Homo sapiens: one gene and its partners. The protein of the gene in region 2 interacts with the protein of the main gene of each other region in a pairwise test. Each region holds a gene or a part of one and is shown on either strand. Other genes may lie near its edges.

Evidence for each region.
Region 1: the proteins of LYSMD2 (region 2) and DUSP4 interact in binary tests that used the Homo sapiens proteins (3 or more experiments, as listed by UniProt).
Region 3: the proteins of LYSMD2 (region 2) and LCN9 interact in binary tests that used the Homo sapiens proteins (3 or more experiments, as listed by UniProt).

What each region holds. Positions count from the first base shown.
Region 1 is NC_000008.11:29,345,994-29,356,177, reverse strand, and holds the start of DUSP4 (dual specificity protein phosphatase 4), read left to right. Parts: upstream 1-5,493; 5' UTR 5,494-5,899; coding exon 5,900-6,332; intron 6,333-7,372; exon of another isoform or gene 7,373-8,387; intron 8,388-10,103; exon of another isoform or gene 10,104-10,184. UniProt on the Homo sapiens protein: Regulates mitogenic signal transduction by dephosphorylating both Thr and Tyr residues on MAP kinases ERK1 and ERK2.
Region 2 is NC_000015.10:51,733,035-51,742,713, forward strand, and holds the start of LYSMD2 (lysM and putative peptidoglycan-binding domain-containing protein 2), read right to left. Parts: upstream 4,622-9,679; 5' UTR 4,589-4,621; coding exon 4,316-4,588; intron 4,029-4,315; exon of another isoform or gene 3,906-4,028; intron 1-3,905.
Region 3 is NC_000009.12:135,657,700-135,668,209, reverse strand, and holds LCN9 (epididymal-specific lipocalin-9 precursor), read right to left. Parts: upstream 4,902-10,510; 5' UTR 4,889-4,901; coding exon 4,793-4,888; intron 4,049-4,792; coding exon 3,912-4,048; intron 3,489-3,911; coding exon 3,415-3,488; intron 2,966-3,414; coding exon 2,855-2,965; intron 2,560-2,854; exon of another isoform or gene 2,523-2,559; coding exon 2,467-2,522; 3' UTR 2,458-2,466; intron 2,350-2,457; 3' UTR 1,249-2,349; downstream 1-1,248.

The DNA of each region.
Region 1 (10,184 bases), on a different chromosome or scaffold from region 2:
GCAAACCCACTGGGGAAGAGAGATGCTAACAAATGAAAGGAAAAGAATACAAGGCACAAGGGCAGAATGAATGTCAGAGGTGAGATAACAGTTTAAAAAAAAAAAAAACCTACAAGAGAACTCAAGGACATTTCAAGGATAACATTTAAGTAGATGAAATGCACTTTATTCATGATGGCCTTTTCCTCCATTTCCCTAATCTCACAACACGGCTCCATCCCTTTCTCTTCTGAATCTTCCTGGCATGCTGTTTGTTCTCTAATGACACTTTGTTAGATCCTGCTTTCTGGCAATGTACAGTGGCAATCACACCCTGACTAGACCAATGAGACTGTCAGCTTTTTGAAGGCACAGTGTTTTGGACAAATCTGTCCCCCTACTTCCCGCACCTCTTGCTGAGTCTAGCACGTTTGTTGAATGAATAAGAGAATCTGCACAGCTAGAGTGACCCCAAATAACCTAGTTTTGTTTTGTATTGTTTTGTTTGTTTGTCTTTTGAGATGGAGTCTCGCTGTCTCGCCCTGTCCAGGCAGGAGTGCAGTGGCCCAATCTTGACTCACTGCAACCTCTGCCTCTCCGGGTCAAGGGATTCTTTTGCCTCAGCCTCACGAGTAGCTGGGACTACAGGCACCCACCATCATGCCTGACTAATTTTTGTATTTTTAATGTTGGTCAGGCTGGTCTCCAACTCCTGACCTCAAGTGATCCGCCAGCCTCCCAAAGTGCTGGGGGATTACAGGCATGAGCCACCATCCATGCCCAGCCTCCGAGTTCATTTTTATCCCGTTTGGAGAAGTGTTTCTTTCCAAAATTTGTTTCTGAAATTTTGAAGACGTTTTATCAAAATGCTTGGGACGTTAGCACGTGACTAAACAAATAAATAAAAACTATGAGCTCTGCTGTCCATGAGTTTATATTCTAAAGCAGGGACAAGGAGGAGCTAGAGATCGTCCTTTATCTTATGGCATTATAGTGTGCTTGGCTCTTCAGAGGGCGAGATGGGAAACCTATGAAACTTGGACTCGGAGCTGAGAAGTCTTCTTCTGCTCAGAATCATACAGGGTCGGAAATAGACCAGACCTGAGAAACCATCCTGCCCAAACTCTTCATTTTGCAGGTGAAGAAAGTGAGGCCAAAGGAGACTGTCTTGCCCAAGGCCACCAAGCTAGATGGTGGCATAGCCTAGATTGAATAGTTTTAAAATAAAGCAGTAAATAAAGCAATGCATTAAAACCTTTCTGCAGAGACCCTGGGTTAGAAACTTAATCTTTTATTATTTTTTATTTGTATTTATTTATTTATTTTGAGATGGAGTTTTGCTCTTGTCGCCCAGGCTGGAGTGCAGTGAGGGGATCTCAGCTCACTGCAACCTCTACCTCCCGGGTTCAAGCGATTCTCCTGCCTCAGCCTCCAGTGTAGCTGGGATTATGGGTGCGCGCCCGTCATGCTGGCTAATTTTGTATTTTTAGAAGAGACAGGGTTTCACCATGTTGACCAGGCTGGTCTTAAACTCCTGACCTCAGGTGATCTGCCCACTTCGGTCTTCCAAAGTGCTGGGATTACTAGCGTGAGCCACCTCGCCTGGCCGATACATAGCCTTTTAAATCATTAATAAGTGCTAGAGTATCAAGCATAGAAAACAAAAAAGATCTGTAACAAAGTCAGGACTTAAAAAAAGAAATCCTCAGGCTATGTCTTTGAGAGTTTTTGGTTAGGTTCAGTGTGAACTTTGAAGACTTTCCTTCGCTTTCAGTCCTGACTTGATGGGCAGAGGTACGTAGGGAAGGACAGGCATTTCTCAATTCCATTTCTAAACGTTGCCTAAGAACACGCTGTGTAGACCACAGGCTTCTCTGCTTTCAGGAGCAGGAGAGGGTCTCCCAGTTCTTTTGAGCCTTCCCACTACCAGGGGGCAAGTTCCCTAATTAGTTGATCTAAGAAGCCTAACCAACAAGATCTGTGCAAAATGGATTATTCCTGTTCCAGTTCGACGTAATAGCAAGGCTGCCTCTTTGCTCAAGAAAGGAAAAGCCACAGGACTTTTCTTTCCATCACCACCTTAATTAATTCATTAATGATTTTTCAGGCAAGTTTTATTCAGGCACTTTGGGACAGAGCAGTGAGTCAGAGGTTGGCATCAAAACTAGAATAGAAGCTGTACTTCTCTCTGGGGATTCTACTCCGGGCTTTAGATTCCCCGATCATACAACTTCCTAATTGGAAAGAAATGTTCCTAAACAAGAGCAGGTGTTTTGCTGGAGCCTGACAGTGACTAATAAGGTCGGTCTAAGGACTGACTGATGAAAGAGAAGCTGGATTTACTTGTCACAGCGAATTTTTAAAAGTTCTTTCACCCCGAGGTTTACTGCTGAATATAAATAAAAGACCTCTCCTTGGGCAATCCCATCCCAATTCCTACAAATATGCCTTAGTTAATTAAATTAACTTTGAAATGACATTCCGTGTCTTGCTCCAAATTGCCTTTGTTTTCTCCAAGATCTGCTCATTGACAAGCTGTTTCACAAGGTTCCTGTTTAAAATGGTTATGTTTCGTCCACAGACTGCAGACGAATTGGAGACAGGTTTTATCTATAGCCGGCATGGAGTAGCCCTCGCGTTGTACTCATTTAACTGTGGACCAATGGTTCACAAACATACAATTAAAAAATATATATCTAGGGTGTTTACACAGTATCCCGATAAATACAATATGGTAACTTAAATCTCCTTTGCTGAAATTCACACAACTGAAGGCCAATTCCTGAGTTGGCAATGGGGTGTGGATTTTAAAAATTAGTCTTTTTTAAAAATCAGGCCTTCGCTTTCGCAATTCAAGTGGCTCTCGGCTTAAACACATTAAGTCCCAAGCTGTGACTCCCTTCCAGTGAACAGCCGCGTAGGCGCGGGCACGCACACGTGGACACACACACTCACACGCGCCCTCCCACACCCCTTTCCGTGTGAATCGCCTGCGGGATTTAGGGCTTCTCCACCAGCGATTACTGTCAGGTGCAGAAAGCAAGCCTCTTTGTTCTATGGGCATTTTCCTCCCCCTGGATTTGACTGTTATTTACTGGCCACGTGAGCGCCAGGCGCGGGTCCGGCGGGGAAGGCGACCCCAGAACAGGGTAGACAAAAGCTGGCCCAGAGCGCGACCCGTGCGCCCCAGGGACGTCTCCCCAGCTCCTGCGACACGCGTGAAATTGGCCCGGACCTGCCTCCTGAGAGGCTTTTCCCAGAAATGTCTTGTTAAAGCCTTTGTAAAGGAATCAGTGTTTACTTGCGCCGGGAGAGCTCCGGCCCTGGGTCCTGGCAGGCGGCGGATTTCTGAGCTGCTGGAGAGCAACCCGGGAAAGCAAAATCAGCCTTGGACTGTCGGGGCCCCTGGGGCTCCTTGCTCCTTATCGAAAGCGAGTTATTAGATAGACCCCCACAGTCCCATTCAGCAGAATGGGAAACTGGACTCAGACACCTTTTGCCCTCCCCACAGGGAGGCCACGCCGTGCGGCTTTGACCACTGATCTCCCACCCGGAGTGCCCGACGCCCAGGGTCCTGCCACCGGGCAGCCTCGGTCAGTCCACAGTTGTGGCTCCTTCCAGGGCCTGGACTAGGGTGAGCACAAGCCTTGAGCGCAACATTTAAGAAGGGCGCCGAAAAGTCAGTAATCAAAAGAAATATCTTGATGCAATGCCTCTTTAAAAGAAAAAAAAATGCAAAAAATCCATGATGAATAAAATACTAAATTTTAAAAAGAGAAAGGATCCGTGCAGTGCCATCGTAAGCCATTTTGGAGCCCGGAGCAAAAGGAAATATCACCTTGCCCAAGCGGTGCCCCTACAGCTCATCCGAGTAGGGCCCGGGGGTCGAGGCATTCGGGGCCCAGTGGGGGACGAGGCCAGTCGAAGGTCTCGGAAGTGGAGGCTCCGCCGAGCTCCGGTCGGGGAGTGCAGGGATGGCCCCCGGGACCGGAGGTGAGAGCTCGGGAAAGCCGCTCCGCCCGGAACAAAGGCATGGGGAGAGGGTGAGCTTGGGCGGGAGAGACCCGGCGGGTACCGGTGCCCTCGCTGCCTGGGTCGGGCTTCCACGCGCGCCCCGGAATGGAATACGCTACTCTGCAGCCTCCGAAACTGCGAGCGAGTCCTGTAACTCCCTTGCTCTGTGATTAATTCTCACTAACAAGACTTGGCAAGATGTCGGGCGAATGATTTTTGGCTTCTGCACGGTCCCCACCGCGTGCGTGCACAAACCCCCAGCCAAAAGCCGCCTCTGGGAAATTAAATGCAAAAGAGAAATGGGGATGGGGAGGGCTGCTACGTGACCAGGAAAAAGGGATGCCCAGAAACATGAATCGGACCCAGAGCTGCTGAAGTCCTTTCAAAAGGTCATTCTTTGCGGGTACATTTTCCAGGGTCCAGCTCCGCAACAAATGTGGACCCTGTCATTTCCTGAAAGGATAATTCACAACTATGCAAGATAGGGTGAAGACGTTTCCCAAACCCGAAAACCTTGTTTTTCCCCCGACCAGGGTTAAATAAACATCTTTTAGGAAGCGTGGACAGGAGCGCAGCCTGCTCTCCTCCCTCGGAACACCATTCCGGCAATTAATGCCTCCCTTTGGGTAGTAAAGCAACAAACCCCACACCTCACTCCGATCCTGGGCTTCGGGCGGGAGGACTTTCTCTTTCATCTTCCAAGCAGGGGGTTGCCCACGTTCTTGGGGAAGCTATAAAACTGATTTAATGGCTTTAGATGAAAATCGATCACGCTAATGCATACGCTAACGTCTCAGGAATCGCATATTCAGAAAGGACTGGCCGGGCCGAAAGCGCACGGGGAGTCTGGGGCTAGGAGGTGTCAGGCCCCGCTGGGTGGGCAGCAGCGCTCCGGTCCCCTCTCCACTTGGGTAACCGGGAAAAACCTACGGGGCTGTCACGCGGGGAAGCGCGAAGGTGCCAAGGGATGAAAGCTCAAACCCGAGCCCTGGCCTCCTCAGCCGGCTATTTCCTTTGGCGCCGCCCGCCTAGCGGCGGGGTGCAGCGGCGGCACAGGTGCCGGTGTCGGGCTGGAGGCGCGGCGCAGGCTGGGCCCGCGGGTAGACGGCGAAAGGCGCCGCGCGCTCCATTCACAAAGTCCGGGCGCTGCCCGCCGCTGGCGGCGGGTCGGAGGCCGCCTCCCTCTTCCTCTCGGCCTCGGTTTTATGAATGGGCCTGATGGCGAGCACCCGGCGCCCTGTTTACTCCGCTCTTTGTGACGTCGAGTTCCCGTGACCGGGAGCCAGCGGCCGCGCTCCATTCAAGCTCCGGGGAGGGGGTGGGAGGAGGGGCCCGGAGGGGGCGGGGAGTCAGCGCGGGGGGCGGGGGACAGCGCGGGGGGCGGGGGACGGCGCGGGGCCCGGAATGGAACGGGGCGGGGCCTGGCGGGGTAGTACCTAGCGCCCCCTCCCCCGGGAGCGCGGAGGAGCATTAATAAACCTCTAAGCCGAGGAGAAAACTCTGGCTGGGGCAGTGCGCTGAGCGCCGGAGGAGCGTAGGCAGGGCAGCGCTGGCGCCAGTGGCGACAGGAGCCGCGCGACCGGCAAAAATACACGGGAGGCCGTCGCCGAAAAGAGTCCGCGGTCCTCTCTCGTAAACACACTCTCCTCCACCGGCGCCTCCCCCTCCGCTCTGCGCGCCGCCCGGCTGGGCGCCCGAGGCCGCTCCGACTGCTATGTGACCGCGAGGCTGCGGGAGGAAGGGGACAGGGAAGAAGAGGCTCTCCCGCGGGAGCCCTTGAGGACCAAGTTTGCGGCCACTTCTGCAGGCGTCCCTTCTTAGCTCTCGCCCGCCCCTTTCTGCAGCCTAGGCGGCCCGGGTTCTCTTCTCTTCCTCGCGCGCCCAGCCGCCTCGGTTCCCGGCGACCATGGTGACGATGGAGGAGCTGCGGGAGATGGACTGCAGTGTGCTCAAAAGGCTGATGAACCGGGACGAGAATGGCGGCGGCGCGGGCGGCAGCGGCAGCCACGGCACCCTGGGGCTGCCGAGCGGCGGCAAGTGCCTGCTGCTGGACTGCAGACCGTTCCTGGCGCACAGCGCGGGCTACATCCTAGGTTCGGTCAACGTGCGCTGTAACACCATCGTGCGGCGGCGGGCTAAGGGCTCCGTGAGCCTGGAGCAGATCCTGCCCGCCGAGGAGGAGGTACGCGCCCGCTTGCGCTCCGGCCTCTACTCGGCGGTCATCGTCTACGACGAGCGCAGCCCGCGCGCCGAGAGCCTCCGCGAGGACAGCACCGTGTCGCTGGTGGTGCAGGCGCTGCGCCGCAACGCCGAGCGCACCGACATCTGCCTGCTCAAAGGTAAACGAGGGCTCCGGGCGCTAGCTGGAGTCGGGGAGATGGAGGGGGTCTTGGCGGCCTGCGCCTTATTGGCACGGGAAGGAGTCCCCGGCGTGATTCGTGGTTGCGGGGATCCCCGCGCGCCCCTTTGTGTGTGTTGGTGTGTAGGGGTTTGCAAGGTTTCTGTGCAAGTGCGAGGTTCAAGTCCTCAGGGAAAGTGCGGACGGGTTTCTCCGGTCACCTGCAATTCCGCACCGTCCTAGCGAGGCCCCGTTTATTGACATTAACGGTCCTAGCCTCGAGGATGAAGCGACTCCTCTGCGCGGTCCATCTTGAGTCCCGGGAACAGTTTCCAAGTACCACGGGGCGCGTGGGGACAAGATAGGCCTGTTGGTTTGGCGTGCTGGGGCCCTACACTGAGCCGGACCGGGAGAATCCCAGAGGTGGAGAAAAGGTGAAGAGGGGTGGGCGCCGAGGTACAATTGGCCTTGCCAGTTTCACTGAAAACAAGACCCTGGCAAATGCAGAAAGGGAGATTGGGTTGCACACACTGTGTAGAGCGATCTGTATCTGCGTTCCCGCTGCCCAACTCCAAGCTCAGCTTGGAAGGTGGCCAATCCCCGTCCCGGGCTAGATCCAGGCTCTGGGAGCGGGAGGCTGAAGGACTGGGTATCTGGGGGACGCCGGGCGGAACCGGTCCTCTAGCGCCTGCAAATCCGGGCAGCGGAGAATGATCACCTTTTGTTCAGCCCGGATTTTCGACTATCTGATGGCGGCGCGTGCCGGATTTTAGCGAGCCCTGGCGAAACTCTCGGCGGCGAGACTGTCTTGTCACATTTGGTAGTCGGAAATCCTGGAAAAATCGCGTGCTGTCCGAGTCCCTGGAGGGACCTGGCGCCCGCCACACCTGCAGGGCAGGGTGGGTCCGCGGCCCTCGGGCTAGGGAGCGGGCAGGGCGCGTGGGGTCCGGGCGCCCCCCGCCGCGCTGCGCCTCCGCCTCCCGCCGCCGCATTCCGCGCATTCTTCCGCGCGGGTAGGGTCTGCGCTTCCGAGCCCGGTAGGCAGTTCAGACCCCCCCACACCCATCAAAGAGCCGCTCCTCCCCCCCGCAGGCGCCTTCGCCGCCTCCCTCCCTTCCTTTCCTTTCCGCTCCTCTTCCGACCTGTCCACCCGGGAGGAAGGGAGCTGGAAAGGGGGCGGAAACCTCTCCCCTCCAAAAAGCACAACAAAACTGTTCAGTGCGGAGGAGCCGGGTTCGCCCCTGCCGGACAGCGGGGGGCTTTGTTCCCCGCAGTTGTTTCCTGCCCATTTGACCTGTCAGCTGCTGGGGAAACGCTGCTGTTGACCTTTGGTTGAACTGCTAAGGCGATTTTGCTGATTTTTCTTTCTTTTTCCGCGAGGGCTGTCTTTTGCTCCTCCAAATGAGCCCAGTCCCCCTCCCTTCTCCCCAAAGCGCTCCAAGAGAAAGTGCCAGGAAGGGGCTTGTCCCGGAAGGCCTGGCGGCTGAGCGGGGCCAGGTCCTGGTTAGGCCACCAGGGTGGGCGTCCGCGCCATTGTTTGAGCTTGTCGGCGCTGGTGGGAGAGATGAGGGCAATTCCTCTGGGACGCAAGTCCCCTCGAATGGCCGGGGCTGGCCGGGATGTTCCCCGCACGGCGCTGCCCTCGAGTCCCCCCGATGGAGAGCGCGGGCGCGCCTTCCTTCGCTGGCGTCCAAACCCGGGACCAGCTAGAACACAGCAGGGCTGGGACTGGGTTCCAGCCCCACGTGGAGTCTGGATTTGTTTTGTTGTGTTTTGCTTTCCTTCCTGGAAGAAATCCCGAGGGGACCGCCCTAGAGCGGCAGCTCCAGGACCTCGGCCCTTGGGCTTCCGGGGGTGCAGCCACTTAGGCCCCGCTCCCGGGGAGAGAGGGATTATTTTTTAAGATTTATCCCCAGGGCGCGCGGCATTTCCCTGTCCCTCGTGAATCCCGTTGAGAGTCCTCCCTCCCCAACCTCCTCCATTTCCCCAGCCAGACCGATTCGAGAGCCCTGGAGATTCTGGGCGAGGCTAGTGACTGGGTAGTACAGGCCTCTAGGTAAAATGACAGCCCTCTGGTGGGTGGCGAGGTGCCTGGCCAACATAAGAGAAGTACTTTAAGGGCTGTTTCCTCCTGGAGCCTGCACTGCCTCTCGTAGTCGGCCCCGACGCGGGCAGGGAGAATCATCTTCTGCATCTCAAAGTGGACATCCTTGCAGATGGAGGTGTGCAGGCCTGGGCCACAGATTTAGCTTCGGTCTCTTCTAGAATAGCCCCTCCTAGCCAGAAGTTCAGCTTCTGCTTCCAAAGGGAGCCTGCCCTTGGAAGCAAGCACCTAAAATTGAGAGGTGGGGGAATCTTCCAGCCTGCTCTGTTGTGGTGAACATCGTTGAGGTTAACTGGGCCCTATTCGGTTTAGCTTAGCTGATTTTGACATATGTGTTCAGCAGAGGCCATCTTTAACCCAGTTCCTCTTCTTCCTCTTTGCCCTCTAATGGAAAGGCATCCCTAGAGAGGTCAGAAGGAAAAAGTCAGTATCTGCTCCCACAGCTCTGCGGGAAGGGGCTGGGGAAGGAAATCAAGGTGTCTCCCAGGTCTCCAGATACACCTCCCTTCCATGCCTGGAAGCCAGTGCAGTGGAGCAAATGTGGTTTCCCGGGAGGGGGCTCTGGGGCAGAGACCTAAAGGGGAATTTTGAGAAGCAAAGGAAGAAAAAGCCCCTTAGATTATCTTTAGTAAATGCCTGAATTGGTGAAGGGTTGGAGAATTTGTTTCCTACTGGAGTAATTCATTTTATTTTCCAGCGAGGGAATGTATGTATGTCTCATTTCAGGTGTGCCTGTGCGTGTCTGTAAAGCAGGACAGGAAGCCAGTGGAAGGCTTGATGGTTGGTGTCTGCCATTCTTGGAGGGGTTAGGAGAAGCAGTAAAAGCAACAAGAGTATTTTCAGAAGTGATAGTAGCATGTCCAGCCAAAGCTATCTAATTCTATTAATTGCATTTTAAAATTCAGTTTTTCTATTTCTGCCACGTTGAAGGGTTACTTCAACCACGTTGAACTGGTTACTCCATGCAGGTGGCAGGAGGTAAACTTCGCTTAATATCAAGAAAGTACAGCCTAGCCTTTACATTTCCTCAGATTACCCGACTTTTGCTAAAAGCAATAACGAAAAATCTAATGTTTTCTATCTTTGCTAGTAAAGGATTTCCAGTGGGGTAATTTTTTTAAAACTCATTTAATTTAAAATCTTGTAAGGCATTTTTAGAGTCAGTTTGGAAATTTTAGTTTTTCAGATTTTATCACAATACACTTCTTGAAATCCCTTTCTCTCTCATTCGTAAATCCTTGGATTAGAGTTTGAGACTCCCCTGGTCATTAGAGAAAGACAAAAAGAGCTTTTTCTTACCCTATTCTTTGCCTTTATTAACCCCAAATAACAAAATAATCTGTTATGCAAAAAGATTGCAGGTATAAAAACATTACCTTCCTTTCCACCTACCTAAAACTTCCCTCAGCCTTTGTCAGTTCTAATTTAAAAGCTGTCCTGGAGCTGTTGGAGAAATGGGGAAGATCATCTAGATATTCCAGTTTCTCCTTCCACTCACCCTATAGTACCGGATAGCATCCAATAGCCCAGGGCCTGACCATACAGCCCATGATATTACCCTTTCTGTAGAAAACAGTCACTAAGGCCACTGATGAATGTGGGGGGAGAGGAACACAATTAACAGCTCTGGAAACTCTGGTGACATTTTTCTGTTTTTTCTCTCTCTAGCCCCACCATTGCTCTCTCTGTCTTCAGTTCCCCAGGAGGGCAATGGCATCAAACAGCACAGCTCTGGGGGATGTCAATATT
Region 2 (9,679 bases):
TTCAAGGTCCAAAGTGATCTAGTCCAACTATACCCCACTGCATTCTAAGCACCAGCCACAGTACTCCTGGAAGGTGCCAATTATGTTCTCACCTCAAGGCCTTTGCACCACTGGTTATTCCTTCTGCCTGGAATGTTCTTCACCAGATATCTGCACAGCTCCCTCCCTTACCTCCTTCTCAGCAAGGTCTTCCCTGGCCACACCATTTTAAATTCCAGCCATCTCCACGAGCCCTCCCCAACTCCCTCTCCTGCTTGGTTTTTTTTTCATTATGCTTATCAATATAAGATACATTTTCTTTTTCTACTTACTGTCTCCACTAACTAAAATATAAGCTCTATGAGGACATGGATTTTTATTTACTCACTATTGTATCACCAGAAAGGTAGCTCTGAGGGAAAGAAAAAAAATTGGATGAATGATAAATACTGTTAGGAAAACATGGCAGGGAAGTTGGGGAGGAGCGCTGGGGGACTAGGGAGAAAGGCTACAATTTGACATAGAGTGTGCAGAAAAGGCCTTAAGAATGAGATATTTAAGCAAAGACTTGAAGGCAATGAGGGAACAAATCACTCAGCCAGAATCAGCTCCATCATTCGCCCAGGGCCAGTAAAAAAATATGAAAATGTGAGGCCCTTGTTCACAAACTATTAAAAATTTCAAGAGATGACAGTAGAGCATTAAACCAAGTGTGAGGCCCTTCTAAGCATGGGGTCTTCTGTGACTGCGCAGGTCACATGCCCATGAAGCTAGCCCTGTATCCAGCTATTAGAGAAAGACAGATGGAACAGCAAGTGCAAGAACCCCAAGGAAGAACAGTGCTTTGGGAACAAGCAAAGCAGCCATGCTTGTTAAAAATGGAGACTCTGGCCAGATGCGGTGGCTCACGCTTGTAATCCCAACACTTTGGGAGGCCAAGGTGGGCAGATCATGAGGTCAGGAGTTGAACACCAGCCCGGCCAACATAGTGAAACCCTATCTCTACTAAAAATACAAAAATTAGCCGGGCATGGTGGCGTGTGCTTAAAGTCCCAGCTACTCGAGAGGCTGAGGCAGGAGAATAGCTTGAACCCGGGAGGCGGAGGTTGCAGTGAGCCAAGATCAGGCCACTGCACTCCAGCCAGGGTGACAAAGTGAGCCTTTGTCTCAAAAACAAAAACAAACAAACAAACAAAACAGAGACTCCTAGACTCCTTTTCTGGGTATTCCAATCCCATAGATCCAATGTCAGCTAGGATCCTTTATTTTTAGTTTGCCCCAGAGTATTCCTGTCCTGCCCAGGCCAATTTGAGGAACATGGATCTATTCTCACATCCTGAGATATGCCCTGCTGCCAGCCCTTCAGCACCACTTCAGAAAATGGCTCCCAGCTTGTTACCCTTGTAATCCAGGGCTGGCAACCAGGTCTCCATCTTCACCCCCTTGTCGGAGTCTCTGTTCTGGGAACTTCCTTGTACCTAGACTACGACTGGCTCTTAATCAGTCTTCCACCAAAGGACTGAAGTCCTGCCTGACACCCAGCTGGGTGGCTGAGGAGTTGCCATGGAGAGACAGGCTTTCCTGAGAGTTTCTGCTCATCTGTGCAAGATTGACAGACATGGTATGTTAAGGTCAACTGTTTGCTGAACTGACTTAATTTCTAGGTGCACTGCCTTGAGTCTCTAAGCCTCCAATATCTCATTTTCGACCTTTTAAAACAATCATTTAAATATGTTGTAGATGGTCTTGCCAGTCAACAACAGAAACCTAATTTGCTCAACTTCTTTCTGTTCAGTCAGAAGAAAAATATTTTTCTGCCTTTTTAGCTTCCACCTTAAAATCTCACAATGAGTAAACCTAATTAATATCTGCAGATATTAGACCAGTGCAGTGGCTCACACCTGTAGGCCCAGCACTTTGGGAGGCTGAGGTGGGTGGATTGCTTGAGCCCAGGAGTTCCAGACCAGCCTGGGCAACATAATGAGACCCCATTTCTACAAAAAATACAAAAATTAGCTGGGCATGTGGCTTGAGCCTGTAGTCCCAACTCCTCAGGAGGCCGAGGTGGGAAGATCACTTGAGCAGCGGCAGCTGAGGCTGCAGTGAGCCATGTTAGTGCCACTGCACTCCAGCCTGGGTAACAGAGTGAGACCCTGTCTCAAAAAAAAAAAAAATCTGAAGATATTAAAACAAGAATATCACTTCACTGTTATGGTAAGTATTATCACTTTCACTGATTCTATATTACCAGTGGAGGAGTCTCTAAAAATTTTATCAACTATAAGCCAGGGCCCAAAGTAATGAGAAATACATGTAATAAACCAGTGGTCCTCAACCAGGGGTAAATTTGCCTTCTAGAGAACATCCGGCAATGCCTGAATAGGGGTGGGAGAGTGCTACTGGCATCTAGTGGGTAGAGGCCAGAGATGCTGCTAAATATTCTACACTGCACAGGACAACCCCGTGCAACAAAGAGTTATCTGGTCTATAACATCAACAGTGCTGAGGTTGGGAAACCCTGTAATGAACTATGTGTCACTATCAATTATAGTTCCTGATTCATTATCCTTGTGTTTAATATCTTAAAATCAAAAGTCTTTATAAAAGCAACGAAAAATCTGATCTACACTTTAATTTTAAAAAGGGGTAATGAGGTTATGAGTAATAGGATCTATATTAGACATAACAGGGATTAGAAAGCATTTGATCAAAGGTGGAAAACTGCAGTAAACAGATGTATAAGAGTTATCTATAATCAACTCAAGTGAAACCACAGACGGCTGTGGGTCACAGAGAGATTGCACGGGAAGACAGCATGGGAAATAACACTCTTCTGCATGTCATAGATTTTTAGGTGCTGTCACTAGCCTAGTAAGGCAAGATGCCTGAAAACCAGATAGAAAAGACTGTCCTCCTTCAGTAGCCAGGATGCTGAGAGAGCTCCTGATAAGACTAAGATAAAAATAAGGATGGATATCAAAAGTAATATCTAGAGGAAAGCAAATGCTTTATCACTGTTAATTCAAGCTGGTCTCAATGAATGATCATACTTGGAAAATATCCTTACCTCTCATCCATCTTCTCATCTGTAAAAAGATTAATTACACCTACCTCCTGGGCTTATTGTGAAAGTTAAATAAGATAAAGATGAAACAAGACAAACGCAATGCCTGCCACACAGGAGGCATTCAGCAGAGGGTAGCTACTGGTATTTCCCAACTTCGCTTTCCTCTGCCTCTGACTCAAACCAGGCCCCATTAAGGCACATAGAGAATTGTAGCTCTATGTTCACATGTATAGAACTCCCAAGAGGGCAGAATGGGGCTCTCCATGGCATGATAGAGTCAATACATGACTGCACAGCAAGGTCCCTTTCAAAATATTTCAAAGATAGAAGGACCTGATAGGTAAACATATACCGGCTTAAATATGCAAAATACATTCTCCTTCATACTGATGCTCCTTCATTCGGTAAAGGGCCAGAAAGAGTTTCACTTTAAGGGAAAGATATAGATAAGATCCTCTTTCTTCCCATTGCTGTCTAAGGTGCTTCAGGAAAGAACACTGAAAACTGATACAGATCCCAAATGTAAAAAGGCCATCACATAGCTCACAGTTAATTATAAGTAATTTTAATGAAACAATTTGTTCCCTCAGGTTTCCATGTTCTTCCCAGAGGTGTAATGCTATACACCCAAGACACACACACTTATAAATTTGTAATAAACGCAGCCCTCCAGCTCACCACAGTTCTTGGCTGCTGCTTAGCGACAGGTGTCACATTCGCGGTTGCCAGTGAGCCCAGAGGGTGTAATTTCACTTCTACATAAAGAAGCATAATCGATAGAACCAGAACCACCCAGTAGGAACAACTGCACCATTCCTGACTCATCACGGAGCTTGTTTTCACAGACAACAAAATTCACCTCAGTTGGGCTTTGCGTAAATATAGAGTAGTGTGATGGGGCCTGCAAATTGGGTGAAGGTGGTTCACGGGGATGCCAAAGCCCTAGTCCTCTTCGGCCTCCCTCACGCGACAGATCTAGTCTGAGCCTGGGCGGGGCACCGGGAACTCGATGCAGCTACCTAGGGAGGGAGCCCTGGCGGTCCGCCCCTCCCGCTGCAGGACCAGCTTTGGCGACCACTGCGGTGGCCAGCAGCGCGCGCTGAGCGAGCCCTGGGAGCCGAGCCGCCCGGGGACGCACGGCCGTCCCTGCGACTCCCCATCCCCCAAACCCCCACCCGCAGTCCCACCCCCACCCCCACCGCACCCCGAGCCGCACCGCCTCCTGCGCGGTAGCTGCCAGCCCGGGCCGCGGCGGCGCGCCCTGCTCACCGTGACACCGTACTTGAGCGCGATGCCCTGCAGCGTGTCGCCCGCGCGGACCCGGTGCTCCACATGGCGCTCGATGACGCCGGCGCCCAGCGGCGCCCGCACGCTGGCGGTGCTGCCGTACGAGCGGGTCTTGGTGCGGGCCAGGCTCAGCGACAGCTCGGCCTCCTCGGACTCGGAGCCGGAGCGCGAGCGCGGCGGCGGCGAGGGGGCCGAGGGCCGCGGCGCGCGGGGGCCGCCTTCCCGCAGGGACAGTGCGGGCGAGGAATCCGCCATGGGTCCTGCCGAGGCCGCCGGGTCGGGGAGCTTGCCAAGGGGGCGGCGCCTCCTCCTCCTCCGCCGCCGCCGCCGCCTCTTCCTCTTCACAGGGGCTGCAGCAGGCCGTTCCGCGGGGGCGGCGGACGGGAAGCCGAGGCGGGGAGCCGCAGGCCGGGCATGGCGGGCGCCTCCTCCTCTGCGTCCTGCCTGCCCCGGGCGCCCGCGGCACACGCACCTGCAAGGTTAAGAGCGAAAGCAGCTCCCGCCGCGGCCTGCCGGTACCGGGAAGACCCTGCAGAGCGAGGGAGCCGGGGAGCGCTGAAGCCCGCGGCCGTTGGGGCTAAGAGAGGGCTATCTGCAGGCGTCCTAGGCCCCAGGTGGACCCCTGCTCCATTGGCGATAGAGCCCTGGCAGAACCCTGCCCTGGCCACGGCGAAAAAAAAAAAAAGCGTTGCTCTGCCTCCTTTATTGATTCCCCAGCAGGAGCCAGCTTGCACAGACCTTCCAGCTCTGCCAATGCCAAGGGTACTTCCCTCCCCCCACCCCAGTGACCTCAAAGTCCACGTCACAGTAAAACTTAAGATCATCAAACACACACAGACAGCTTCTCCAGGTCCATCTCAACAGCCTCAGAGTCCAGTCCTTTCAACATTGCACTAGGAGGGATAGTGCTTCTAAGGCCTAATGGGTGGCCTCAAAATAACCCCCCTAGTTGTTCGGGTTTCACACTTTGTACACTAGTGCCAATTTAAGTCCTGGCTGCCTCGAAAGGCTGGCCACATACAATTCATTCTCCAGGCTCAGTAGTTGGAATTTACTGTCTGCATTCATCTTCTCTTCGTCAGTTTATTCTTTGACACCCTGAAATCGCATCTCCCTGCCCCGTATTGCTATTAATATTATAACCACCAAAGACCTCTTATCTGTACTCTTCATTTGAACACCGTCTACTCTTGAACACCCTTTCAACACACTGTATTATACACAGAGTGGGTACACATTTACTAGCATCTAGTGCCTGGTTTCTGTGTTATTTTGGACAGCTTTCCAAGAAGAGGTACCTTGTAGGAAGGTCCGGAGCCTGGGGGTTTGATTCGTTGGCTGAAGTTTTGGTATGTTGCTGTGCTGGACAGAGGCAAAGCTAATATTGCTCAGGAGAGAAAGGATGGGAGAGGAGCAAGCTTCCACAACACCATCCCACTCAAAACTCCTACAATGGCTCTCTGGGGACAACAGCATTACTAAAAACCTACATTGGCATTCAAGCTATTATTTCTATTTTTATTATTCATGGTCTGACCATACCCCATCTATAACTCATTCTGTATACTCTACATATTCCTGCCAAACAGAGCCTCTGAAACTGGCCTCCTTGTTCCTACTTTCATACCTTGCATGTTATTCCCTCCAATGGTAACACTCTTCCAGTACCCTCTATTACATTGTTTAAATCTTTAAGGTCTGTCTCAAATGATACATCCTCCATGAGATTTTTCCTAATTCTTCCCAATGGTCCCTTTTTCCCACCTGCCCAACTGTTACTGTTTCTTCTTTGAACTCCAAGAGGTTTGTATTAATACCTCTGGTTTAGTATTTAACTCTCTGTGTTTTGTGTTTGTACTTGCATGTACATGCATGAGCTTGTCTTATCTCCTCCAACAAATACGTGCTCCTGGGAGGCATAACTGGGTCTTACTCATCTTTTTAGCTCCAGCAGTGCCTAGCTCAGTGGAATAAAAAAAAAAATAAATACATAATTACAAGTGGTTGAATTGAGGTGTAGTAAAAAGATCCTGAATGCTAATTTAGATTGTTTAGCATAAGTCTGCCATGCATAAACTTTTGGGTGGTATCCAGTGTGTCCATTTCAGGACCCAAGAGAGAGGCAGAATTTGAGTCTCAGTATATAGACAAGATCTGGTAATGTTTCAAGAAAGAAGTCTCTTCCTTCAAAGAGTTTACAATCTAGGAATGAGACAGCATATAATGTTTTCCACTAAGAAAAAGTTTACTGCATGGCTGGAAGTTTTAATCTGAAGATTAAAGAACTGAGCCAGGCGCAGTGGCCCATTCCAGCACTTTGGGAGTCTAAGGAAGGAGGATAGCTTGAGCCCAGGAGTTCAAGACCAGCCTGGGCAACATAGTGAGACCCATCTCTACAAAAAATACAAAACTTAATCGAGCATGTGGCCTACTCCTGTAGTTCCAGCTACTTGGGAAAGTGAGGTGGGAGGATTGCTTAAGCCCAGTAGGTGATCTCTGCAGTAAGCAGAGATCATGCCACTGCACTCCAGCCTCAGCAACACAGTGAGACCCTGGGGTTTTTTGTTTTGGTTTGGCTTTGGGGTTTTCTTTGTTTGTTTGTTTGTTTTGAGATAGAGTCTTGCTCTGTTGCCTAGGTTGGAGTGCAGTGGTGTGATCTCCGTTCACTGCAAGCTCCGCCTCCCAGGTTCAAGCAGTTTTCCTGCCTCAGCCTCCTGAGTAGCTGGGACTACAGCATGTGCCACTATGCCCGCCTAATTTTTTGTATTTTTAGTAGAGGTGGGGTTTCATCATGTTGGCCAGGCTTCTCTCAAACTTCTGACCTCAAGTGATCCATCAGCCTCAGCCTTCCAAAGTGCTGGGATTACAGGCCTGAGCCACCACGCCTGGCCAGGCCTGTTTTTTTGTTTTTTTGTTTTTAAAAAAAAGAACTGAGTTACATGAGGTGTTATTAGATGTTCATTGTTTTCCTTCTTAAACCAGAACTTCAAAATTGTTTTAATATGTATCTACCTACAACATAGAAGTTCATCACAATTAAAGATGAAACATTAAAAGCATTTCCTTTGAAGGGAATGGTAAGAAAAGGAAGCCTATTACTGCCTCTATTTAACATTGTTTTGAAGGTCTTTGCCAAGGCAATTTTAAAAAGAAGAAAAGGAAATGAAGATTGAAAAGAAATCAGCTGTTATTTACAGATAGTAGGCAATACTAAAATGTTTATAGGCAACACATAATGAATACATTGGAACTGTTCAAACAATTGAGAGTTCACCAAAGTTAAAAGATACAAGCTCAATATACAAACATCAATTGCATCACTCAATCATATAAGTGTGAAAAAGATGACATTCCACATACCACCAAAAATACCTAGGAATAAATTTAACAAGAGAAAATTGTTCCTGGTGGCGTAGGAGCAGAAAAAAAAATTTAAGGTAATAAATAAAAAGATAAAAAATAAAAGAAAGAAAGAAAAGTGTGTATTGTATGGAAAATATAAAACTTTTTTGAAGTACATAAAAGAAATATAAATAAAAGCAGAGATATACCATGTTTGTGAATGGGAAATGCAAAATAATGAAAATATCATTTTCTTTACAAACTAATGTTAAATTCATTAAAATTGCAAACAAAATCTCTATAGCATTCTTCAAAGGATATGACAGAGTTATGCTGACATTCATATGAAAGATAAAGCACTAACAAGGGCCAAGGCATTCCTGAGGAAGAATTAGGAAGGAGGCTTACCCTTATAGCCATGAAGACTTAAAACTATGAGAACTAAAGCAATGTGGGACTGGTACTGAGGCAGGAAAACATAACAAAGGGACAAGGAAGTAAGCCAGCAAACAGGTTCACATATATTGGATAACTTAATCTATAGCAGACGTAAAGTTACATATTCAATAAATGTTGCTGGAACAGTTAGTTTTCTGTGTGAGAAAAGATGAAATTAGATCCCTGTCTTATACTACACATCAAAATCAATTATAGATTGATTAAAGACATAATTGGGAAAAGCAAACATTAATGCTTTTGCAACAATATTTTTATAACCTTGGGATAGCAAAGGGTTTTTTAAACAAGATACCAAAATCATATAATTCACACATCACATAATTCATCCATTTAAAGTGTATAATTCAATGCTTTTCTGCATATTTATATTACATTACTAATTTCTTGAATTGTGACAAATGTACATAACATAAAATTCACCATTTTAACTATTTTTAAGCTTACAATTCAGTAACATTAAATATATTCACAGCCCGGGTGGTGGTTCTCGCCTGTTATTCCAGCACTTTGGAAGGCCAACGCAGGTGGATCGCTTAAGGCCAGGAGTTTAAGACCAGCCTGGCCAACATGGCGAAACCCCATTTCTACTAAAACTACAAAAATTAGCCTGGTGTGGTGGCAGGTGCCTGTAATCCCAGCCACTTGGGAGGCTGAGGCAGAAGAATCGCTTGAACCTGGGAGGCGGAGGTTACAGTGACCCGAGATAGCAACACTGCACTCCAGCCTGGGCAACAGAAGGAGACTCTATCTCACAAAAATAATAATTAAATATATATATAATGTATATATAAATAATATATATATATTCACAATGTTATGCAACTATCACCACTATCTATTTCCGAAAGTTTGTCATCACTCCAAAAAGAAATTTTTTTTTTTTTGAGACGGAGTCTCGCTCTGTCGCCCTGGCTGGAGTGCAATGGCACAATCTCCACTCACTGCAACCTCCACTTCCTGGGTTCAATCGATTTTCATGCCTCAGCCTCCCAAGTAGCTGCACCAAGATTACAGGCCTGCACCGCCATGCCCAGCTGATTTTTGTATTTTTAGTAGAGATGGGGTTTCGCCATGTTGGCCAGGCTGGTCTTGAACTCCTGACGTCAGGTGATCTACCCACCTCGGCCTCCCAAAGTGCTGGGATTCAAAAATAAATTTTTAACCATTGAGCAATAACCACATTCCAGCCTTCCTCAGTCCCTGATCACTTCTAATCTACTTTCGGTCATATTAATTTGACTCTTCTAGATAGTTCATAAGTGGAAGCATACAATATTTTTCCTTTTGTGTCTGGCTTATTTTACTTAACATAATGTTTTCAAGTTTCATCCATGTTGTAACATGTATCATGTTGAGTTTGGGGGAGCTCTTTGTATATTTTGAATGTAAGTCCTTTAGCAGATACATAGTTTTTAAATAATTGTTTCCCAGTCTGTGGCTTGCCTTTTAAATTTTTTAACAGGGTCTTTCTCAGAGCAGGAGTTTTTAACTTCAATAAAGGCCAACTTGCTGGGTGCAGTGGCTCATGCATGTAATACCAGCACT
Region 3 (10,510 bases), on a different chromosome or scaffold from region 2:
GTATAGGTGGGGTTTCACCATGTTGGCCGGGCTGGTCTCCAACTCCTGGCCTCAGGTGATCCACCTGCCTCGGCCTCCCAAAGTGCTGGGATTACAGGCATGAGCCACTGCACCCGGCCTCACTAGATTTTTATTTGACTGAGTGCCACCCCAAATGGAAACAACGAGGGTGGTCTCTTGGTTGTTCTTTCATGCCCTGCCCACTGCCCTGTTCCTTTGTCCACCTGAGGCCCCTGGTGTTGAGGCTGCAGGAGTCTGAGGCCAGGGCCAGCCTGGTGCTGAGCAGCTGATGGTGGGGTGGGTGCTGGGGACACTCAGCTCTGGTTCAGCTCCCCTTTGTGCTGTCTTCTGGGGTGGGGCTAAAGGCTTCTGCCTATGTCCACATCTACCCCCATGCCCAGGCCTCCTCTGGGGCCCAGAGGCTCCCCCTGCACCAATGGGCAGTGGCCTCCCAGCACCCCTTTCTGGCAGCCTTGGCTCTGCTCCTCCGAGGCCAGCTTTGTGCACCAACGGGCCCCGCCGAGTGGGCAGCTTCTCGCGTTCCCGCTGCAGCTCAGTAGGCTGGGCCCAGATCCAAACAAGGGGCCGGAAGCTGGGCAGCCATGGGAATGCCAGGTGCCTCCCACTCCCTCCCATCCCAATGGAGCTGCTCCTTCCCCAAGCCTGGCACCCATACAGCGGGCACTAAAACTCTACCCAGCCTCACCCTATAGCCTGGAGCTCCCAATGGAGGTGGGGTGGGGGGTGGCATCCAGACCCTCATCCTAAGACAGCTCCACTTAGCTCCTTTACAAGCAGGCACTGGCTCTGGGGACAGGTTCTTCCTGAGCACCCGGGACTGTGACCCACAGGATGACCCCTTGGAGAGCTCACGCAGACGCCAGAGTTGGGGCCGCCCAGCGCACACCCCCAGCACAGACGCTTCTGGGTCTCGGGCTGCAAAATGTTCTCCCCCGGGCAGGGGGCAGGGCCAGCGGCTCCTCAGACAGAGCCGCATTTTTGCTGCACGTGCAGGGTCATGTCCACCGCCAGGGTCACAGTGCAGGACGTTCCATCGTCACCAGGGCCCCTCCTGGTGCCCCTTTCTGGCTGACTTCCTACCTTCCATTTGTAACCTCTGGAAATCACCGACTCATGTCCCCCTCTGCGGTTTTGTGATTTCGAGAGCATCATACAAATGCAGTCGTTTTCACATCTCTGACAGAGGCCCAACCAACAATCACTTTTAACCCACAAAGTCACCGCAGATTGGCTGGTACCTCCCTTTTATTCACCAAAACATGGAGGCGGGGGCGCAGGCACCTGCCTCAGCTGTGACATTGTTGATCATCTTCCCCCAAAGGCAGTGGCTGAGCCCAGGGAGGGGACAGGAGGGGAGGGGCAGAGAGGGGAGGGACAGGGAGGGGAAGGTCAGCGAGGGGAGGGGCGGAGAGGGGAGGGGTAGGGCCTTGGTTGCCGGTTGCCATCTCATCTCACCCGCATCTTGGGGCCACCACGCACCACAGGTACATCCACTCCTTTACCCTCAGGAACCCTCGTGCAGAAATGCAGAGGTGCCTTCAGAGGCGTATCTCTGGGAGGCTCAGGCTCTGGGAAGGGAAGGGGGCCCTGGGGGTTTTTACTGGGCTGGGACCATGTCTGAGAAGGGAGGGGCAGCTCGGAGAAGGAGCCTGTGGTGACCTGAGTGGTGTCCCTCAAAGGACATGCTCCTTTCCTAGTGCCTGGAGCCTGTGAAGGGCATCTGATGGGAAAGGGTCTTTGCAGGTGTGAAGTTGAGGTCTTGACGGGAGATCATTCTGCATGAAGATGGGCCCGAAATCCAATGACAAGTGTCCTTAGAAGAGACAGAAGAGGAGACACAGACAGAGGCAGAGGCTGGAGTGACAGCCACAAGCCAGGGATGCCTGGAGCCCCCAGCAGCCGGAAGAGGCAGGAAGGACCCTTCCCGGGAGCTGGTGGAGGGAGCACAGCCCTGCGGACCTCGGGTTTCAGACCTCGGGCTCCAGGCTGTGAGAAAGTAAATCCTGGTTGTCCTAGTCACCCGCATATGGTGACATCAGCCCCTGGAGACTCACACAGGGCCCCATCTCACTTCCTGCTCAGACCTTACCACCCTGGAAGGCCCCATCACTGCCCCGACTCCAGGATGCTTTTCACAGCATCTTTCACCAAAGCACCTTGTGTTCGGTTCCCAGACCAGGGGGAGGGATGGGCACCTCCTGGGGTGGGACCCCGCAGCCTCTGACGTTGGCCCCAAGCTCTCCCCATCCAGCCCCCTGCCCGTCCCGAGTCGCAGCTCACGCATGGGAGGCCTGGGCGGGCTCCTGTAATGCTTGGAGTAGCAGGGATCTGGAAGGACAGAGGGGGCTCTCAGCGCAGGGACAGGGACCCCGCAGGCACACCTCCCATCCCCACCCTGTCCCGGCTCCCGCTTGGTCCGGGAGCAGTGGGGCTGACCTTTGTTGGTCAAGTCGATGATATTTTGTGAGCCAAGTCCGTACTTTTCGCAGGTTTCTTCAAATCTGCTCAGGAAGGAGGGTTCCAGCTATGGGACCCGTGCTGGGAACAGAGTTGGTTCTGTGTGAAGCTGGGCCTTGCTGGGGGTGCTCAGGAAGTGCTGAGGCTGGGCAGGGGGTCACGCCCTGACCAGAGAGGGGCTTTGTGCCAAGTGAGATGGGAGGTGACAGATTGAAGCACCCAGCACCCTAACGGTGTGTCTGTGGGAAGGAATAGCCAACGGGAACCACCTCTCCAAACCCCAGGGCCACTGCGAGACCCTCCTCCGCCCAGGGTTGGGCCGGACTTCAGAGGAGGTGGGGTCCCCGAGGGGGTCAGAGGGGGACAGCGGAGGTACCATAGAGCGCCAGCGTGTGGGTCTCGGTCCCGTTCCTGAAGTTCTGGAGGTGGAAGGTGATGAACAGCCTGTAGTCAGTCTCCGAGACGGCCACTGTGTTCTGGCCCTCATCTGCGTGGAGACATGGCTCAGCGTGGCCTGGCCCCGCCACCCTCAGGGTCCTGTGACACGTGCTGTGTGGCCGCAAGTGAGGATGGGGGGTCAAGTGGCCTTTTGAGGCGGGAGGGGAGGAGCCCACGGTGCTCACCCAGCGGAGACCCCTGCACAGGGGGCGGGCAGCAGCGGCACAGCCCCCTCCCTCCTTGTCATTGGCTTGCAGACCCTGGTGGCCCCTCAGTGGGCTCACCCCCCAGAGCTCAGCATGACACACCTGCCTCCCTGCTTCCCCTGGGCCAGGAGCCCCCCTGGGTAGGTGCCAGGATGGGTCCCTCCAGTTCAGGGTCAAGCTGTCAGGGGCTTAACTAAAATCCCCAGAGTCAGTGCTCACCAGAATATGGCCCAGGCCCTGGAGAAAGGAGACCCCCGACTGTGAGACCAGGAGGAGCCTGGCTTCCACTTACAGTTGATGGAGTATTCCCCATTCTTCTCTGTCTTCTCGCAGACCACGACCACAGCCACACACTCCCCCTGCACCCTGGAAGCCAGCCAGGAAGATGCCGGGAGTGGAGCTCCAGCCCCCTGGACGTGCGATGGCAGAGAGCACCCCTCCTCCAGGGCACAGGCTCACCCTCCCAATGCCCAGGCCTCATTCCACAGCCCCAAGTTCTTGGGCTGGGCCCTGCTGCAGCCCACCGGACACCCTCATCTCCTCGAACCTCACCCCAGCCTTGGAAGGGGGCGATTTCATCTCTATGTTTCAGGGAAGAGCACAGTGCCAGGCAGACCAAGTCCCTGCTCCCACCTCACCCTGCCCCCAAGGGTCACACGCACAGGCTCAGGCTCTCACCAGAGTGCAAGTCAGTGAGTGTGCGAGCGTGTGTGTGCAAGAGTGAGAGTATGCGTTGGGGTGGCAGGGGCATGGGTCTTCCTGATGCCAGCTGAGATGGGCAACACGCACATGTATTCGAAATCAAATATTAGGCTGCCGTTCTTCAAGTGTTCAATATTCCGGACGAAGACCCTCAGGTCTCCATTTTCTTTAATCCGATTCAGGTCATCTGAGGCCATGAAAATAGAATACCAGACCCCTGAAACCTGAAGACAAAGAGCTCCAGTGGGTGGGGGGCCGCGGGACAGCCCTGGGGATGCTTAGCGCCCACAGTCTTCCCTCCCAGGGCCCGGCCCCTTAGCATCTGGCTCCCAACCAGAACCCCTCCGCCCTTCCAGTGCCCCCAGGTCTCCCCTCGTCACCAGATCCCCCCTTTACCCCCAAGGTCGCCCCTCTGCTCACAGAATGCCCTCCGCCCTTCCAGGGCCCCCGCTGCCCCCCAGGTCTCCCCTATGTCCCCAGATCCCCCCTTTGATCCCAAGGTCCCCCCTCTGCTCACAGAATGCCCTCTGCCCTTCCAGGGCCCCCTCTGCCCCACAGGTCTCTCCTCTGCCCCTCCAGGTCCCCCTCTGTCCTCTCAAGGTCCCCCGCTCCACCCTTTCCCACTGAGTCCCCCTCTTTTCCCTAGGTCTCCCCTATACTTCTAGGAACCCCTCTGTCCTCTTAGGGCCCCCATCTCCCTGCTGGCCGCCACTCCACTCTCCAGCTTTCCCCTCTGCCCTCCCAGGGCCCCCTCTAACCTCTCAGGGCCCCAGTCACTCTCCCAGGCCTCTCCCACCCGACCCTCCCGGAGTAACCCCTGCTCTCCCAGGCTGCTGTCACAGCTTGGGGAGGAGAGGTGGGCTCCCCTTGGACCAGTTGCCCTGGTCACAGGTCAGAGACCCCAGGCTGGGGGAAGACAGGTGCCTTGAAGCCTGGCCCCTTCCCCACAGACCCCAACGCAGACACACCCTGGCCACGTTGTAGTTCCTCTGCATAACGGTGTGGGGATCGAACTCCTGGGCTGCGATGAGGCTCAGCCCCAGGCTCAGCAGAAGCAGAGCCATCTTTGCCGTGGACGCCTCAGCCCTCGGCCCACCCCCTTTATACCCTGCTGCCCTGCGGCTTCCAGCCCTGCAGGGCGGCCCACTCTGTGGCCCGTCCACACACATCCTGTGCCCACTGGGCATGCAGCCAAAGGCCCCGAGGCTGCTGCCCTCTCTACCTTGGGGAAGATCACCCCACTCCCTTGTGGGAGCTTCCTGGATCCATGGGCAAAGGAACCTGCTGTCCCCTCACTGGAGGCAGGCACCTTGTCCCAAATGCAGGGGACAGCCTCTCTCTCAGCCTGCAAGAGGACCCATGGTGGCTGTGTCTGTGGAGTACAGGGTGTCCCTGTTCCCCTCCCATCCCCTCCCGCTCCTTCCCCAGCACAGCGTCTGGGGCCGGAGCCAATGGTGAGTCACAGCGTCCCCAGACTCAACCGACGGCCGGGCGCTTATTCGCTCCTTATTCTCTCAGCCCAGTAACGAGATGCAGACGAGCTGGGAAATAAGAGAGTTTGCTTCTGTCACCGGGTACAGGCAGAAGCCCGGGAAAATAGCACTAGACCAGCTCAAAATTGCAGTTTTCCAGAGCTTATATATCTTCGAAGCTGTAGGTCTACGTGTAAGTGTGCATTCAGCTAAAGACACAGTGATGAACTTCTTCTAATCTATAATTAAGGCCTGAGTCCTGAAGAACTTCCTCTGGAGCCTCAGTAAATTTACTTAATCTGGAGGGGTCCAGGTGCTGGGGTGATTCCCCTTATCTTTTCTCCTGCTAAATCATGGAGGTTTGGGGCGTTCCTTTAGACCCCAGTAAAACTTGTTTAATCCTAAACGGGTCCTGTTAAGAATTCCTTTGTTATCTTGTCATGCTTCAAGGCCCAGGAGAGGCCTGGGCAAAACTCTTGGTGGGCTTTTGTTACATTCCAGCCTCTGTTGAAGGGCGCTGGCCCTCTCAGCTTTTAATATTTGACTTCACCACCCGGTCAGTGCTGAAACAGTTGTCGTGGAGGCCGGCCTATTCAGCCGTTAGTGAGACCTGGCCTGCCACAATCCCCACTGTCAAATTATGCATGATTGCTATCATGCTTGTATATTTATTTCTTATGAGAATCATGGGGGGATGGGGCATTATAATCTTTCTGGCTACTTCCTGCTGATAGGAGGTCATTGTTACGGGGCACCAAACGCAGTGTTGGAGTGAAAGATGTTGATTTGTTCCCAGTAGTACTCTCTGTTTTGGGGGCCTAGAGAAAGCGCCTGTTGAAATAGTATGAGCTGGAGGGATGTTTTGGAACAATGTGCAACAGCAATACATTCCACAATGTAACATGATGCCGGTGCCTGCAAGGACGGCCTGGACTGCGAGGACGTTCAGCCCCGAGGGAGACCCTCTGCTAAGCCATGATGTGGTTCGGTCATTAACCGATAACCTAGGGCTGGAGATGACCTGCATCTGTGGACGATAGCCCTTTTTTTTTTTTTTTTTGAGTCTTGCTCTGTCGCCCAGGCTGGAGTACAGTGGTGCCATCTCGGCTCACCGCAAGCTCCGCCTCCCGGGTTCATGCCATTCTCCTGCCTCAGCCCCTCAAGTAGCTGGGACTACAGGAGCCCGCCACCATGCCCGGCTAATTTTTTGTATTTTTAGTAGAGACGGGGTTTCACCGTGTTAGCCAGGATGGTCTCTATCTGCTGACCTCGTGATCCGCCTGCCTCGGCCTCCCAAAGTGCTGGGATTACAGGCGTGAGCCACCGCGCCCGGTGGATGATAGCTTTTAATGCCAGAGAAATATTCCCGGAATTGTCAGGTACATACATGCAATATTCGGTTCTGATGAGGGTGCAGGGTCCCTGCTAGGCCGCTGTTAGAATGTCTAGGGCCATTTGATTTTGCAGGATAGCTTTCCACCTATGGTATGTTTCAGCATTCACACGGGAAACACTTTGGAGACTGTCGTTTAAGCCTCACTGCGTAAAACTAGCGAGTGCCTCTGTGTGCCATATGACCATTTCTAAGCCCATTGAGGGCATAAATATTACGGCCAGATGACCGTACCTGTGAAAGACTGGCCTTGTCCATCTGTTACGCATATGTGGGAGATTGACTGGATTTTGGATGGTTTTTACCAAGGTCCCTGTGCCCATAGGAGGCCTAGAGTGCAGTGTCTCAACGTGCCCGAGGCCAGCCATGGCCATAAAATGGTGCCACAAAGCCACTGGCTTCCGTCAGGGGCATACCAGTGTAGGCAAGGCCATTGGGACCAGTTGGTGGCAAACAAATCTCTTTACTGAGGGCCGGGCGCAGTGACTCACGCCTGGAATCCCAGCACTTTGGGAGGCTGAGGCGGGAGGATCACTTGAGGCCACGAGTTCGAGACCAGCCTGGCCAACATGGTGAAACCCCGTCTCTACAAAAGAAATATAAAAATTATCCAGGCGTGGTGGCGGGCACCTGTAATTTCAGCTACATGGGAGGCTGAGGCAGGAGAATCGCTTGAGCCCGGGAGGCAGAGGTTGCAGGGAGCCGAGATTGCGCCACCACACTCCAGCCTGGGCGACAGAGACTCTGTCTCAAAAAAAAACAAACAAAACCCAAATCTCTTTGTTGTAGCACTATAATATGTGCGGCAGAATCTGTCCCATGATCCGAGTTACGTTAGGCCGGTGATCAATGTGTGGCGGAATCCGTCTCATAACCTGAGTTACATTAGGCCGGTGGTCAATGTGCGGCGGAATCCGTCCCACGATTCGAGTTGTTAGGCCAGTGGTCAATGTGCGGTGGGCGGAATCTGTCTCATGATTCGACTTATGTTAAAGTCGGTGGTCAAGGGAGGGGTTCTGTCGTTTGTAGCGTAAGGGGGCTATTTGGTTTAAATGTCCGGTGGAGGCAGTTAGCCAAATAAATCCATTCCAAATTCGAAGAAAGCCGTTTTTATACTGGACATTTTGTGGTACAATAGCCTGGACATCCACCTTCGGACTCAGCAAGGGCATAGCTAAAGCGGTTGCATCATCCCTTGTTTTGTTTACTGAGAATGGCCTTTTGTGCCCTGGGCCTTCTAAAGTTTTGTTTATGGGCCACTCTGAGACATTTGCGCTGGTTACTCCTGTCATTTGTGACCCAGTCCAAGATTTTAGATTTCCCAAAAAGGTTTGCAGGTAAATCCAGTCCTTCCCTTGGATGGGCGACCCCCGCCAAGGCAACCCTGAGGTGCTAGAGAGGGGTGAGAGGCCACAGACCCTGAAGGAGGCTGGCTGCAGGTTATCTGCCTAGTCCTGTGCCCAGCGTAAGAGAAGATGAGAGGTAAGAGCAGGCATTGCAAGACGGAGCGCTAGAAGAGAAAGTCTTAGCGTTTTCTGAATAGAAACTTCAGGCCTTCTAGGGGTTCTGCTTCCCAGCCGTGGCCAGAGATTCCTGTGCTGCAGGGCTCTTGGCCGGCAGGGATCTTTCCACTCATGTGTGATGGACCCAAGGCTTGATGCCTGCCAGCTTCAATGCTGCGTCCATGGTCAGGAGCACGTGGTAGGGCCCTTCCATTTTTCCCATCGCGGCAGCTTCCTTCCATTCCCTCAGCAGCACTTGATCGCCAGGTAGGAGTGGGTGGCAGGTGTCTGTGGAATTCACCGCATCCGTGTTGGAAGCAAACTTATGCAAAACGTTAAGAGTTTGTCCTAAGTGAGCAACATGATTCTGAATAGCCGACTCCCTACCTAGGGGCACTTTGGTGGCCCGAGACAGATTGGCTGCAAAGGGTCTCCCAAAGACGGTTTCGCAGGGACTTATTTTAATCCCACCTACAGGGAGCAGTGCAATGCTAAGTACCTGAGTCCATTTCAACGGAGCCTCTTGACACAACTTGGCAATGAATGTTTTTAGGCTGCGGTTCATTCTCTTAGCTTGTCCAGAAGATTGAGGTCTCCACACTGACTGCAGCGTCCACTTCATTTCCAATGCTTCGTTCATTTGTTGAGTTATCTCAGAGGTGCACAAAGGCCCATTATCATTTTGGATTACGTCGGGGAGCCCGTATCGTGGTATGCTTTCCTTGAGCAAAACTTTACTTCAGTTGCTCATTCGGAGTGACATGGGCACACTTCCACCCAGTCAGAGAAGGTGCCCACTAGAACTAGGGGGTATTTGCATTCCCAGGGGCTGGTGGCATCTGTGTGAAGTCTATTTGCTGGTTTTCTGGTGAGTGACTGCCTCTTTCTTGTTGCCCAGGCTGCCCTCGGCTATGATTATTAGGCTCATTCCGGGCGCACAGATGACAGTGTTGAATGATATTCTCTACGTGGGCCTTTAGTCTTTTCCCTTTCAAATAATTTTGTACAAAGGCCAATGAAGCGACTCTCTCAAAGTGCAGGCTATCGTGAACGTACTTTAACAGCGGGTGGACGAGATGCACTGCCGCCCAGCCTATGCCTGCGCTGTTTCCTCTCTAGCCTCCACCCTTCCTCCTTTAGTTTGAATCCTTTATCTTCTGCAGCCTTTTTATCTTCAGAAGCATACCGGGGCTCGAGGGCCGTGAAGTCTATTTGGGAAATTAAGGGCGCCTGGATTTCGATGCTGTCACTGGCTGAATGCCCGGCGGTGCAGTCTGCGAAAACATTACCCCTTGCCACTTCGGAATTACTGCGTCGATGGCCAGGGCAATGCATTATGGCTATTTCCTGTGGGGCCTTTATCGCTTCTAACTTTTTTTTTTTTTTTTTTGAGATGGAGTCTCCCTCTGCCGCCCAGGCTGGAGTGCAGTGGCGCGATTTTGGCTCACTGCAACCTCAGCTTCCTCAGTTCAAGCGATTCTTTTGTGATTCTCAGCCTCCCAAGTAGCTGGGATTACAGGCACGCGCCACCGCGCCTGGGTAATTTTTGTATTTTTAGTAGAGACGGGGTTTCACCATTTTGGCCAGGCTGGTCTCGAATTCCTGACCTCAGGTGACCCACCTGCCTTGGCCTCCCAGAGTGCTGGGATTACTGGTGTGAGCCACCACACCCGGCCCACCTCTAACAATTCTAACACTTGCTTAGCATTTTTAACTTTGGTGTTATCCGCTCTTAGCCACCCTCCTTCCCTCCAGATAGCTCTGTGGGCGTGAACTATCATGAATGCGTACTTGGAATTAGCGTGTATGTTGGCGCTCTTAACTTGGGACAGTTGTAAGGGCGATTAACTCTGCCTTCTGTGTCAAGGTTCCTGCCGACGAAGTTCTTGCCTCTGTTACCTCTGAGGAGGTCACCACGGCATACATGGTGTTGCTCTTCCTGTCGGTGACCAAGCTACTCCCACCTGCAAACAAGGTCAGTCTGTACGCGGGAGGGCTACAGCCTTTAGGTCGGGTGGCTGGAGAACACTTGGTCTATGACCTCTAGACAGTTATGTAGAGTTTCTCCAGCTCCTCGGTGGCAGGGAATAGTGGAGCAGGGTTTAGAGTTCTGGTGGTTTGCAGCTTTATTTCGGGGTCGTCTAAAAGGATGGCTTGATAGCTACCCAACTGGCCTGCTGTCAGCCAGTAACCTCCTTTGTGCTGCAATAACACTGACATGTGGTGGGGCGTATGTATTGTGACAGGCCGCCCCAAGGTCAGCGTCTCAGCTCCCTCGAGTAGCAGGCAAGCAGCAACAACTGCTCGAAGGTGGAAGGC